2 linked regions of the Homo sapiens genome follow. The protein of the gene in region 2 purifies or fractionates together with the protein of the main gene of each other region. This does not show direct contact. Each region holds a gene or a part of one and is shown on either strand. Other genes may lie near its edges.

Evidence for each region. Proteins that work in one complex are often made in the same cells at the same time.
Region 1: the proteins of CUL2 (region 2) and KLHDC3 purify together in Homo sapiens (affinity purification with mass spectrometry; 7 studies listed by BioGRID and IntAct, with this or other methods). This does not show direct contact.

What each region holds. Positions count from the first base shown.
Region 1 is NC_000006.12:43,010,343-43,017,273, reverse strand, and holds the start of KLHDC3 (kelch domain-containing protein 3), read right to left. Parts: upstream 3,026-6,931; 5' UTR 2,926-3,025; intron 2,777-2,925; exon of another isoform or gene 2,060-2,776; intron 855-2,059; exon of another isoform or gene 388-854; intron 141-387; 5' UTR 82-140; coding exon 1-81. Other genes in the region: MEA1 (male-enhanced antigen 1), read left to right, coding at 3,176-3,212, 3,885-4,159, 4,246-4,348, 4,653-4,804; PPP2R5D (serine/threonine-protein phosphatase 2A 56 kDa regulatory subunit delta isoform), read right to left, coding at 5,988-6,125, 6,277-6,393, 6,538-6,610, 6,705-6,806. UniProt on the Homo sapiens protein: Substrate-recognition component of a Cul2-RING (CRL2) E3 ubiquitin-protein ligase complex of the DesCEND (destruction via C-end degrons) pathway, which recognizes a C-degron located at the extreme C terminus of target proteins, leading to their ubiquitination and degradation.
Region 2 is NC_000010.11:35,087,342-35,094,350, forward strand, and holds the start of CUL2 (cullin-2), read right to left. Parts: upstream 3,001-7,009; 5' UTR 2,838-3,000; intron 2,661-2,837; exon of another isoform or gene 2,555-2,660; intron 1-2,554.

The DNA.
Region 1 (6,931 bases), on a different chromosome or scaffold from region 2:
GTATACCCGATGCCCGACAGCCACTGCAGCATGGTTCACCCTGCGGGGCCCGCCCTCCAGGTGCACTGTCCACCGTAACATCCCCTGGGCCACTGGTTACAGCAACATGCCCCCCCGGCACGGCCTGCTGCCTCTGCTATCTGCACACAAATTGGGGCCACGGGATCCTCAGGCGAGGCTTCTGCCCAGCTCACTGTGACTCTGCCCAGAACCAGCCTTTGCCTCCAAGTGTCACCCTGGGGGCCCTCCCACACTACCCCTCCACAGGGGCACTAGTCTCAGCTCAGGTGGCTGGCCCTGCCCCAAGGGAGCTGCCGAGGTCAGGGAGCAGCCTGGGCCCAGTGTTCTCCAACAGTGAAGGGTGGGGCCACCCCCACCTGATTGCCAGCTCAGAATCTGCATATCATGGTCACAACCTACTCGTGGAGGCTCCACTCTGTCCCTGGCTTGGCACAAACTTGAAGCCCCCTTCCCAAACGGTATATTCTCTTGTCTCTGCTCTGCTTACTGCCACCTCTCTAAGAATCTGTGTTCTTTGAGGTGGGGAAAGGGATCTCAAAATACTCACAGCTATTAATAGCCCAGCCAGCCTCAAACAGTCCATTGAAAGCTGGCATGAGTGCCTCAAAGCAGAAAAGCTTTCAGGCTTTTAGAGTGGAACAATCCCCCTACCCAAGATAGGGCGGGACTGATCCAGGACAGGGACCTCCATGTTACCGCGGTTGGTTAGCCCCTCACAGGGAGCTCCTGTCAAGCTGAGTTGTTGTCATTGGGGTCACCCAGGGCCCCCCACAGGCACAAGGAGTTCCTTTGACAGCTGTGCCTGGTATGCTGCCAGGACTTAAGCCAGAAAGGTATGTGTATGCTTAGGCTTGGGGGATGGTGATAGAGGGAGGGGTTTTCTCCTCCTGCCACTTCCCCATCCCTGCTACTGTGGTAGAGAACAAGCCATTTCCAGTAGAAAAGAGAGAACAAGCTCTTCCACAACTTGGGTTCCTGAAAGGCGGATAGAGGTGGGAGTGTGCAATGCAAAGGGGAAGGGGCTGGGCACAGTGGCTCACACCTGTAATCCCAGCACCCTGAGAGGCCGAGGCAGGTGGATCACGAGATCAAGAGACGGAGACCATCCTGGCCAACATGGTGAAACCCGTCTCTACTAAAAATACAAAAATTAGCTGGGCACGGTGGCGCGCACCTGTAGTCCCAGCTACTCAGGAGGCTGAGGCAGGAGAATTGCTTGCACTCGGGTGGCGGAGGTTGGAGTGAGCCGAGATCACACCACTGCACTCCAGTCTGGCGACAGAGCGAGACTCTGTCTCAAAACAAAAAAAAAGGGGAAGGGAGGCAAAAAATGCCCTTGGGCAGGACAAGAGAAAGATCCAGCATGAGAAGTCATGGTCTTTTTTTTTTTTTTTTTTTTTAGATGAAGTCTCGCTCTTGCCCCCAGGCTGGAGCGCAATGGTGCAATCTCAGCTCACTGCAAACTCTGCCTCCCTCCCGGGTTCAAGCGATTCTCCTGCCTCAGCCTCCCAAGTAGCTGGGATTACAGGCGCCTGCCACCATGCCCAGCTAATTTTTGTATTTTTAGTAGAGATGGGGTCTCACTATGTTGGCCAGGCTGGTCTCAAACTCCTGACCTCAGGTGATCCACCGTCCTCGGTCTCCTGAAGTGCTGGGATTACAGGCGTGAGCCACCATGCCCAGCTGGTCATGGTCTCTTAAACACAACCTGTCAACCTAGTGGCACGTACACCTGGGTACATCTGAGGTTTTTTCAGGCAAATCCTTGCAACTGACAATGCTTTTGCTGGCAAGCATCTCCTGAGTTTGGGTGTATCATCATCTGCTCCCTGTTTAAGAAGCCCTGGCAGAGGAAAGGGCCAGGCAAAACCTCAGGCACTAAAACAGCTCAAATAAGGGAGGCCCCTTGCAGGAAAGAGACATGGCTTTCAGCTGGCTTGCTAGTCCCACCCACCCAACCTCCCCCAACTCCACACCCTAAGCTTTAAATAGCCATGGGACCCATCCTGAAATAGCCCCAGCAGGAAGCTACTCTCACTTCATTACTCCCGCTCTCCAAAATATCTTGGGTCTGGGCTTGTGGAGACTGTTAGGAGGTCGATGGGCTTAAGAATGGAAGTCTTCCATCCTCCCTTATATTCTCTATTCTTCCCTTCAGATATGTCAAGGTAAAGTAAAATATGCACAGGAGAGGAGATAAGCAATTCCAGCCAAAGGTGGAGAAAAAAAATTTTAGTTTCTCTGCCATATAAACAACTCAAATTCAAGGAGAACAAGCCCCCAGGCGCTCAGGGGCTCCTCTTATCCCTGGGTCTCCCCAGTCCTCCATCACCACCAAGCATTTTCAAACTTCTTCTATTCCCTTAATGTATCTACCCGCCTGGTCTCTTGCATTTTTTATTCCCCATTTCTCGCCCTTCTTGATCTCGTGAGAGCTTTGCAGTTTTCTCATTTTTCCTTCTCCTACCATTCCAAGCTCCACCCAACAGCCCTCCATTTTCCCACCTCCACTAAGGAAAGAAAAATTAGCATGCACTGACCACGATACCCCTCTCTGCATATGACTCTATCCCTGTCTTCTTCCAGACATTCCGGCCTCCCCTAGCCCACCACGCCAGACACCCCTCCCCTTCCATTATGCTCAGCTTCCCTGTTTTCATGGCCCAGTCTTCCTTCCCATTTCCTTCATTGCTTCCTCCAGACACCAGGTCTCTCCTACCCATCTCCTCGCCATCCTCCCCTAGCCCTGCTTTCCCCATTAACACTCTCCTTTCCCATCATCCCCCTAGCTCCCTCCCCACCCCCACCTCATCACTCTCAGGCCCCTCCCCCGCCACTCCAGCTCCAGACAGCACGTCCTAAGCCCCCTAATTCTCCCTTGCCCTTCTACCCATCCCAGGCTACCTGCCAGGCCGAGCCGGGGCGGGGCCGCGGGTCCTCGAGCTGCCTGCAGCCTAGAACCCGTTGCGCGCCAACCGACGCCTTAGTCCCCAACGAGATAAACACAGCCAAGCTCGGTTCTTCCGGCGGGCAGCTGTGCGCGCACGTGCAGTCGTAGCTAAGTGCCGGAGGCATTTCGGGACTTGTAGTCCATACGTTTCCTGAGGGACGAGAGGGCTGAGGAGTGGGCAGGGGCGTAGGAGAGATTCTGCGCATGTGCAAATATGTGTCGAGACCGAGGAGGCCACTGGGTAATGCAGTCCTTTGTTTTTTGGGCTGGGAATGACGGAGGCGGGGCAAGGGGCGGACTCCTCGTCCTCGCCAGCGTCAATCATGGATATGGGGCGGGGCTGGAGGACTAGGCACCTCTGCACGTCCTGCCCCGCCGGAAGTGGAGGCCGCGGGCTCTGAGCGGGTGAGGCGCGCGGGAACACCGGCGCCGGGATTCGGATGGGGGCGGGTGGGGGACGCTGCAGCTGGGGCCATTTGAGGGGAGCCCATGGGGCCTGAAAGGCATCTGTCAGGCGGTACAGAGGGGGTCCTCTAGGAGAGGGGAGAAGGGGGCGGGTACGCCGACCTGTTTAGGGGAGTCTGATGACCCAGAGTTCCCAAGTCGCGGGGGAGGCGTGGCGCGGGGAGCCGGGGTTCTGGAAGGGGTGTCTTTTAGGAGGTGGCAGGGCCTCCGGTTGGGCGTTTAACTAGGAAGTGGCGGAGCAAGTTGGTGGGGCCTGGTTCAAGATAAGAACCCCGACTTAGGAGGGGGAGGAACGAGAGGCTGGAATTGGGGCGGAGGGGTGGAGGATGCAGGAGCCTCGGGGAGGAGCTGGTTTTTTGCACGCAGGAGACTACAAGGAGATGATGAGAGGATGAAGATGGGCCTGGTTTCATCCGATCCCTGTCCTACCGCCTCCCTGTTCTTGCAGCCCCTGCCCGGATGGCAACAGTAGTTCTAGGAGGAGACACCATGGGCCCTGAGCGTATCTTCCCCAATCAGACTGAGGAACTGGGACATCAGGGCCCTTCAGAAGGCACTGGGGATTGGAGCAGTGAGGAGCCTGAGGAAGAGCAGGAGGAAACGGGGTCGGGCCCAGCTGGCTACTCCTACCAGCCCCTGAACCAAGATCCTGAACAAGAGGAGGTGGAACTGGCACCAGTGGGGGATGGAGATGTAGTTGCTGACATCCAGGATCGAATCCAGGTAGGGTGGAGGAGGGATGGTTCCTGAACAGGTGAAGCTGGGCTCCCTGAAAGCCTAGACCCAAACGGTCTTCTGTGGCTCTGCAGGCCCTGGGGCTTCATTTGCCAGACCCACCATTAGAGAGTGAAGATGAAGATGAGGAGGGAGCTACAGCGTTGAACAACCACAGCTCTATTCCCATGGACCCAGGTAAAAGATCATTCTTTCATTCTGGAATAATTACTAAGGAAATGAACTGGCATGAGTCAGTAGAAGGAAGTTTCAGAGGAAGACCCTATCCTAAAAAGATAGTTTGTAAACTAAGATTTTGTAGACTTCAGAGTCCAAGTGAAATGCTCTTTTGCTAGCTTTGGGGATGGGCAGGCTTGCCTTAAAGTAACAAGGTGGATTTGGTGACCCTAGCAGCCCAAGGGCTCTGGGTTGATTCGGGGATTGGGGAGGGGAGCTGGTCCCATTATTTCTATGCCTGAATGGCCTCTGGCTCTGATTTCAGAACATGTAGAGCTGGTGAAAAGGACAATGGCTGGAGTAAGCCTGCCTGCGCCAGGGGTTCCTGCCTGGGCTCGGGAGATATCGGATGCCCAGTGGGAAGATGTGGTACAGAAAGCCCTCCAAGCCCGGCAGGCATCCCCTGCCTGGAAGTGACCACAGTGAGAGCTGCCTTATATTCCTACATTCCAGGCCAGAACCAGCACAGGACTGAACACATCCCTGGTTGTAATGTCCATTTCCATCTTCCCCGTCTCCCTTTCCACATCAAGGCACATCAGACTTCTCAGAGACCCACTTTATTCAGTTCTGTACATATGGGGACATCGGTCCAAGCCCAACCCACCTTAGCATGTATCACTCTGTGGAGAATAAAGCACCCTATGTACACAGCCAAAAGCCGCACTGCCTGCGCCCCTGGAACCTGGGTCCGGCCTTCCTCAGCCCCTGGCCCCTCCAAGGTACCTATAAGGGACAAGAGAAGGCCTGCCCAGCATAGCACAAACAAGGAAATAAATAGGTGTTGGCAGGAGCCATGCTTGGGGCACCGCTCCCTGCTTCCTTCTTTCTAGTTTTGGGAACCAACAGCACAGAAAAGCAGTCAGCCCCAGGGTGGTCCCTTCCATGTCTGTGACCCCAGGGCTGCTGCTCACCAAAGACAGGGCACGGGGTAGGGTGTTTATTCATCCCTCCCCGGCCCCACTTGGTCCATCTGGGCCCTATATTCATCAGTTATTGTCCACAGCCTATACTTTTCTCCTTTTGACCTCCCTTGGTCAGGCATGGGGTAAGAAGAAATAATACAACCCTATCTGCCAGCACACGGCTGGGACTGGGGGGCCTATTTGTGCTGCAGGGGGGTTGGCTTCCCTTCAGCTACTCTGGGACCAATGGGGCTTGACATAACTTTGGTGAGAATAATCTCCTGCTGTTCCCTACATGCCTCTGCAGGGGAGAGAGAGGAGGGGAGATACCTGGCGTTCAAATGAGGATGAAGGGAAGAATAGAGGAGCGTATGTATTCCTGTGTGTACTTCTCAGAGCAGCCTCAGGTAGCTGTGGGTGAGGAGCAGGTAGGGGACAGGCATCCCCAGGTTGTCTGAGCACTAAGCATCTTAGTGCTCAGCCTGTACTAGCCACAGGGAGGCATGAACACCTTTTGGGGAGAAGAGGGACCATTCTGTGGGTGTCCCTGCTTCAAGTGCCCACATCCCCCTCCCTTGAGTAGCTAGAGAGGCGCTGCCTTCCCCCAAGACAGCCAGTAGGGAGCAGAGTATGGAGGGCCAGGGCAGTGTCCCAGGGCTGTGTGGGCTGTGGCCCTGTGGTAGGAACGTGAGGGGTCAGAGAGCCTCCTGGCTGGCAGTTAGGAACTCTTCCGCCCGCTTGTGCGCCTCCAGTGCCTTGATGGTGTACACGTCCTGGGGCAGCTCCGACTTCCTCCGCAGCAGCACTTTCTCCTTCTTGATGTCTTTTAGCATCTGTGTGTGAATAGGGACAAGGTGAGGAATGGTGACCAATTCCCAGTGAATTCTATTGTTCCGTCCCCTTATTCTTTGGCTCTGCTGTTTCTGTCTCCTCTCCCTTCCAGAGCTATTATTTCTGCTCCATCCCCCTACATTGCCCTCCCACCTGAACAGCCTCAGTCTCCACAGTCCTCTTCAGAAGCTGGATGTCCTCAGCTGTGGGGGTCTCTGTCTCCATCGAGTACACAGGGGGCAGTGGTGGAGGGGCTCGGAACATGGGATACTGAGTGAGGAGACATGGACAAGCGTTAAGAGCCACTTCAGAGGCTTGGGGGCCTGTGTGCCCCATATTCCTCCCCCAACAAACTCTCCCCCAGCTCAAGATGGGCTGGCCCCTCAGTTCACAACAGTGGCAGGAAAACCTCACCTGGGGATTAAGCCGGGCCAGCTCCTCGATTTTTTGCCACATCTCTTCCCTTTCCTTCATTCGGAACCGGCCCCTGAGGAGCAAAAGTAGGATTGGGGTTGGGCTTGAGAGAAACACAGTGAGCTGGTGGTAGAAGATGAAAGTCTCCCGGGGAGAGAGATACTCACTTCTGCTTCTCTGCCTTGTATTGTTGTGTGCAGTCATCAAACAGCTTCTGATTCATTTCCATAAACAACTTCAGGGCATTATAGATCAGTCCATGGATTGTCCTGCCACCAAGAAGAAAGATGAGGTGTAGGAGGCCAGAGCCTGCCCTTAGCGTGAGGAACCCAATTTGTTCTCTCACAGGGGTATCTCTGCTAAGAGCTTTGTCATTTACTACTTCCAGTTCACA
Region 2 (7,009 bases):
TGATGACTCTCCATATCCATTTTCCTCTCTTCACTAGAACTTAAGTTCCATGAAGCCAGAAATTTTTTAACCACTATATCCACACATCTGGTTTAAAGCTGGTGCTTGAGAAGCCCTCGTTGGATGGCTGAATCACTCCTTAACCTCTAAGTTCCACACTTATTTCCAATCACCTACTTCTCACCTCCACTTGAACAACGAAATCCAACTTAACATGTCCAATCCAACCCCATCCCATACAACAGCCTGCTTCCCCCAACCTCTTCTTCATCTCAGTACACAGCATCATCATCCTCCAGCAGAAGCCAAAAACCCAGAATTGACCCATCCCAACTGCATGCTCATCCAAAACATGACAATTTCAATAAGTATCTTCAACTCCAAAATAAATCTCAAAACGTTTTCACTTGTACCTTAACCCTCCACAGCCACTGCTCTTCTCACTGGTCTCCTTGTGTCTCTCTTCTCCAATCAACAGTCTGATTCTCAATCAGACCTCTCAGTTTAGAAGAGTTCCAAAAGCCTTTTAATGTATCTAAGAACAAAGCCAACATGATCCAGCCCCTGGCTAGGACCCACCTTTAATCTCTTACTAGGGTCCACCTTAAGCCAATTTCAGTTTGTTCAATCCAAGTTTGATAGCACCTCAGGGTTTTTCCATTTGTTCCTCCCTAAAATAGGAAAACTGTTCCCTCAGAATTTCAAACTTCACCTCAGGAAGTTCTTTTCTGGTTACAGTATCTGAAGTAATCTCCCAATCACTACCACAACTCCTTACCTTATTTCCCACACAGCACTTATTCTCTGAGATTATTTCTTATATACTGTCTGTCTCTCCATCCCAAGCCAGAAGTGACACTCCAAGAGGATAGAAATTTAATGGGTTGGACAGGTGTGGTGGCTCACGCCTATAATCCCAGCACTCTGGGAGGCTGAGGAGGGCGGATCATGAGGTCAAGAGATCAAGACCACCCTGGCCAACATGTTGAAACCCAGTCTCTACTAAAAATACAAAAATTAGCTGGGCGTGGTGACGTGCGCCTGTAGTGCCAGCTACTCAGGAGGCTGAGGCAGGAGAATTGCTTGAACTGGGAGGTTGCAGTGAGCCCAGATCGTGCCACCGCACTTCAGCCTGGTGACAGAGCGAGACTCCGCCTCAAAAAAAAAAAAAAAAAAAAAAGAAATGTAATGTGTCTTGTTTACCCTTGTAACCTTAATGCCTGCAGCCCTGCTTGACAAATAAACCAGGTGCTTAATAAATATCTGTCAACTGCCAGACAACGCAAAAATGACTTTAAAGAAGGTCCATAACGTTTAATCTAGTGACAAACTGGTGAGGGTAAAAGACATGGATAATCTTCACATTTATAGAACACTGAAAGCCACCAGCAAGGATGGAGAATGAAGAGTATTTCAGATGCAGGAGAACATCCAAATACTCAAAAAGCAATTGAAAAGGAATTTTTCCCACGCTATGTGCATGCACATTGTAGAAATGTTCCCCCAACTCATAAACAGCAATTGAAAAAAACAAGTAATTCAAAACACTGTGGGCTGGGCGCAGTAGCTCAGGCCTGTAATCCCAGCACTTTGGGAGGCCTAAGCAGGCGAATCACCTGAGGTCAGGAGTTCAAGACCAGCCTGGCCAACATGGTGAAACCCCATCTCCACTAAAAATACAAAATTAGCCGGGCATGGTGGCGCATGCCAGTAATCCCAGCTACATGGAAGGCTAAGGCAGAAGAATTGCTTGAACCCGGGAGGCGGAGGTTGCAGTGAGCCGAGATCGCACCACTGCACTCCAGCCTGGGTGACAAGAGCAAAACTCCATCTCAAAACAAAAAAACTGTGTACTTCTCTTATCTCACGCGACTCTTTTGGAAGGATCTTCCAGATACTGTATAAGGGCAAAAGAAGCAAAGTATAGCTCATTTGTTCATGTGTCTGTCTTGAAAAGGAATGTAAGATTCTAAAGGGTAGGCAACAGTGTTTTGAATGTTTTTAAGCGATTATTATGTAGTCAGTTGTCAATCAGATCAAAGTGATTATTTCCGATACTTTACTACGAAGGTAGGCTTGGCCAGGTCTAGTTCAAAGACGTTTATGTTGAACAGTCACAATCTATAGCGAACGTTAATATTTTGCATCTTATCTTCAAAATTTAAACGCCCAGGGTACTGGCCTTCAACTGTTAATATTAATCCATGGGGCAAAGATGTGGACTTAACATTAATAACAGTCTGCAATTCACAGATGTTTTATTTGCATGCACGTAATGGTAGGGAATGGTCCAGACTCTCTAGAGGGTAAGCAAGTGCTAGAAAGCGTGTGAGGATCTTATTTCACCAGACCCTAAGGGTTGAGACAAGAAGTCTAGCATGCACGTAGGATACTCCTCCCCAAAGCTATCAATCTTTGCAGTCTGCGGAAACAAAAGTGAAAACACTCGGGGTAAGGATGCATGAGATGCCCCCCCCCACACACACACACAAACACACAGAGTTGTGTATTCGTGTGAGCACGTAAATATGTAGAAGAATACACGCACTCTCACCTTCCCTCCTTCGAAGGAAAATGGGGCCGCGGGAGAGGCGGCCAAGATCGGGTTGGGGAGGCCCGGGATCCAGTCCAGGGGGTGGCAGGGCTTACGGGTCAGCGCTCTGGGGAGCCGAGGTCACTTACAGGATACCATCTTCCCGGGCCTCCCCCTTTCATCCCTCTCCCCACACCTCGTCGCCCCCAACTCCTCTCCTCCGCCCCAGCCCCGCCACCCATTAACCGGGAAGGGAAGTTTCCCGGCGCCTGCAGCCCGGCTCCCCGACCCTCAGCGGGGTTACCTTCTGCAGAAGCAGGGCAAGGGGCAGGGGACAAGGGGAGGGGGAGGCAGCCCGAAGGAGTGAAAGACGAAGCCCCGGCGAGGAAGGTGGGCGGAGGCGGCGGCGGCGGCGGCTGTCAGCTCGCGTTCCCCTGCTCACAGCGCTGCCATTACTGTGCGCCGAGGCCGCCTCCCCGGCCGGCCGCCGCCACCGGCCCCGGAGACGCGGGGGGTGGGGAGCGAAGCCCGGGGAGCCCGCGCGCCGACACTCACCTGTCTCCGCGAGGAAAGACAGCAAAGTCCAAGGCCGCCGCCGCTCCCCGGCGGGACAGGGGCGGTAGGGAGGGGGGGAAAGGGGAGAAGGACGGGCCGATCACGGGATCCGTAAAACAATCGTCCTCCTCTGCCTCCGGCTTTGCCCAACACACACCCTCCGGTCTCCTTCTTCCGCTGCTGCCAAATCCCCCCCGCCACCCGGAAAGCAATGGTACAGGCCGCGTTACGGCAAGCGCAGGGAGCCAAGCTTCGTGTGATTGCGAAAGGCCACGGAAATTAATATTCCAAGTGATTCCTTGCTGGGCTTGCTGTCAATGAGGCAATTGCGGTTCGCTGAGCTGATGGACACAGTACCCACCCACTACCCGTTAGTTCAGGGACTGCTAATAACAATATGTTGGAATGGTGCTTTCAACAGAAGTATGTTTTCCTTGTTTCAGACCTATGTGAATATCCTAAGACACCACAATCCTCTTGCCACACACTTCCATGGGCTTTGCAAATGATCAAAAATAAATTAGCAAAACTACTTTTCCTCTCTGACAAACTCTTTTTCTTGTTAGTTTTTATCTACAGAGAATTTCTTGGACATACATGTATTTTCGATAAAGAAACTTCACATCTTTTTCACTAATACCCCACCTTCACCAAGCCCCAAGCCTATCAGTTTGAAGGGTTTTCCTCCCTTGGAGTTTTAAACGGTAAAGCTGATAAAAATATAGAATTACTCATCACCTCCTCATATATGCAGGGCCACAGAGGAACAAAAGCCCGGCCTTAGTGCTTTTTGCCTTTCATATCCTCAAGAGCTCACCATCAGGGTCTTGTTCATTTATACGATTCAGCAAGCTTTTCCCTCCCATCCCTTCCTTCCAAACTGCACGAACCCTTCAAGGCCCATTTAAAACCCTGCCTCCAGACCTGATCAGTCCCTAGAGCCTTCCTCCTCTTCTAATCTGCTTCTCTTGGTACTTGAAGTCTCTACTCTTTATTTCAGTAAAGGGTTTTTATATACGAAATTCAATCCAACAGTATGTTTCCATTATGTGACCTTTTTTTCCTCCCATGTTTTCCCCCTTTTAATCTAGTGATTCTCAAAGTGTGGTCCCCAGACCTCTGGAAATCCCTGAGACCTTTACAGAGGTCATAAGGTTAACAACTAGTTTGTTAACAATGCAATATGTCTGGTCCTTTTTTTTTTTGGATACAGAGTCTTGCTCTGTCACCCAGGCTGGAATGCAGTGGCGGCACAATCTCAGCTCACTGCAACCTGCACCTCCCGGGTTCAAGTGATTCTCCTGTCTCAGCTTCCCGAGTAGCTGGTATTACAGAAGCCCGCCACCACACCCGGCTAATTTTTTGTATTTTGTAGAGACAGGGTTTCACCATGTCACCACATTGCCCAGGCTGGTCTTGAACTCCTGAGCTCAGGCAATCCACCCACCTCAGCCTCCCAAAGTGCTAGGATTACAGGCCTGAGCCACCGTGTCAGGCCCCCCCTGCTTTTTGTTTTGTTTTGTTTTTGTTTTTGACACAGGGTCTCCCTCTGTCGCTGAGGCTGGAGTGCAGGAGTGCAGTGGCCTGATCATAGCTCACTGCGGCCTCAAACTCCTGGGCTCAAGCGAGTGTACCATCTCAGTTTCCGAAGCAGCTGTGACTACAGGCGCGTGCGCCACCACACCCAGCTAATTTTTGTATTTTTGGTAGACATGGGGTCTCACTATGTTGCCCAGGCTCCTCTGGAACTCCTGAGCTCAAGCGATCTGCCCACCTCAGCCTCCCAAAAGTTCTGGGATTACAGGAGTGAGCCACCATGCCTGGCCTCCTCTGTCTTTTTGACTGAGTTTGTTTTTGTACTGATGGTGCAAAGGAATACGGACACTATTGATGCCTTAGCAGGGATCAAGACAGTGCCACCAACCTGTCCGGGTGGTCATTGGATCGCTGTATTCTTCACTGCCATACATTCCCAGTTTTTAAGGCTATTGATTTAGGAATATCCTGGATGAAGCGGAAGCATTAATTTTATTAAATTTTGGCCCTTGAATACAAGTCTTTCTAATACTCTGTGTGAAGAAATGGGAAGTACACATGCACTTCTGCATGCCAAAGTGGGATGGCTGTCTTGAAGAAAAGCACTTGTGTGGTTGACTTACAGGCTGAACTACCTGCATTTTTCATGGTGAAACTGCCTTTGCAAAACATGATAGTAAGAGGAATCTGACCTCATTGATTTAATCTTGCTTCTGACCTCCAAGGTGTTCCTGGTCATTCCTGGGCATAGGCCAACTTAATTTGGGGAGGAAGTTAGTTTATGGTTTAACTTGAAAGCTAAGTTCCTCCCTAAAACTACCCCTGCTCTTGCTTAGGGATGAAAAACCACCTTTGGAAGACTAATGAAAAGCAGCAAGAATAGGATTATGGGAGGGGTGTGAACTTTGCTAAAGTGTAGGCATATTTCTATTAATATACTCCCTTACTGCTCAGGGGTCATGTGGCCAGAGGTCACAAGATTTGTGACTTCCCCAGTTGCTCCTATAAATAACATCAGTATTGTACAACTTTAGATTGCTTTTTGAGATATTTTTCAGACTGACCCCACCTGGACTCGTGACTCATGACTCAGAACTGGTCCTATGGCCCCACCCAGAGGCAGGCTCAGCACTCAAGGACTGTTTTCCACACCCCTATGATTCCATCCCCAACCCATCAGCAGAACCCATTCTCTAGTCCCCTGCTCACCAAATTGTCCATAAAAACCCCAACCTCCAACCCAGGGGGAGACTGATTTGAGTGATAACTCCAGTTCTCCTATGTGACTGGCCTTGGGTCAATTAAACACTTTCTCTACTGCAATACCTTGGTCTCGGTGAATTTTGTCTGTGCAGTAGCCAAGAAGAACCCATCTGGCCATTACAATGGAAGGCCATTTTTACTTGAAAGAACAATTGACAGACTTGGTGGCTCATGCCTCCCAGCACTTTGGGAGGCTGAGGTGGGCAGATCTCTTGAGTGTAGGAATTTGAGATCAGCCTGGACAATATAGCAAAACCCCATCTCTACAAAAAATACAAAATTTAGCCAGGCATGGTGGTGTGTGCTGGTAGTCACAGCTTCTTGGGAGGCTGAGGTGGGAGAATCACTTGAACCTGGGAGGCAGATGTTGCAGTGAGCCAAGATCACGCCATACTGCACCCAGCCTGGGCAATAAAGGCAGACCTTCTCTCAAAAAAAAAAAAAAAAAAAAAAGAAAAGAAAAGAAGAAGAAATTACCACTTGTTGAATTTCACTATAGTATCAAAGAAGAATATCCATAATTATCCAAAAAGACTATTTAATTTTCTTTCAAAGGCCTGAGTTTCTTCATATATTTCAACCATAGAGAACCTAGCTATCTTCTATTAAATCAAATATTTAGAGAGTTGCAAAAATACAAAAGCAATCCTTTTCCTCTGATCAAATTTTTTTTATTTTGGAAAATATGGTTATTTTTCATAAAAGCATGCAATTTATGTTAAATGTGTTTGGTTTATTATTTTTAAAATTAATCAGTAATTTAAAAATTTTTATCCTTTAAATTTCTAATACAATAACTATTTATAGATAGATAGTTTCCTGAGGCCTCCCTAGACACTGAGCAGATGCCAGGATCGTGCTTCTTGTACAGCCTGCAGAACCATGAGCCAATTAAACCTCTTTATTTCATCAATTACACAGTCTCAGGTATTTCATTATAACAATACAAGAATGGCATAATACAATAGATATAACCCACATGAACATAAGCTCTTCTAAGTCCTCGATAATTTTTTTTTTTTTTGAGATGGAGTTTCGCTCTTGTTGCCCAGGCTGGAGTGCAATGGTGCGATCTTGGCTCACTGCAACCTCCGCCTCCCAGGTTCAAGCTATTCTCCTGCC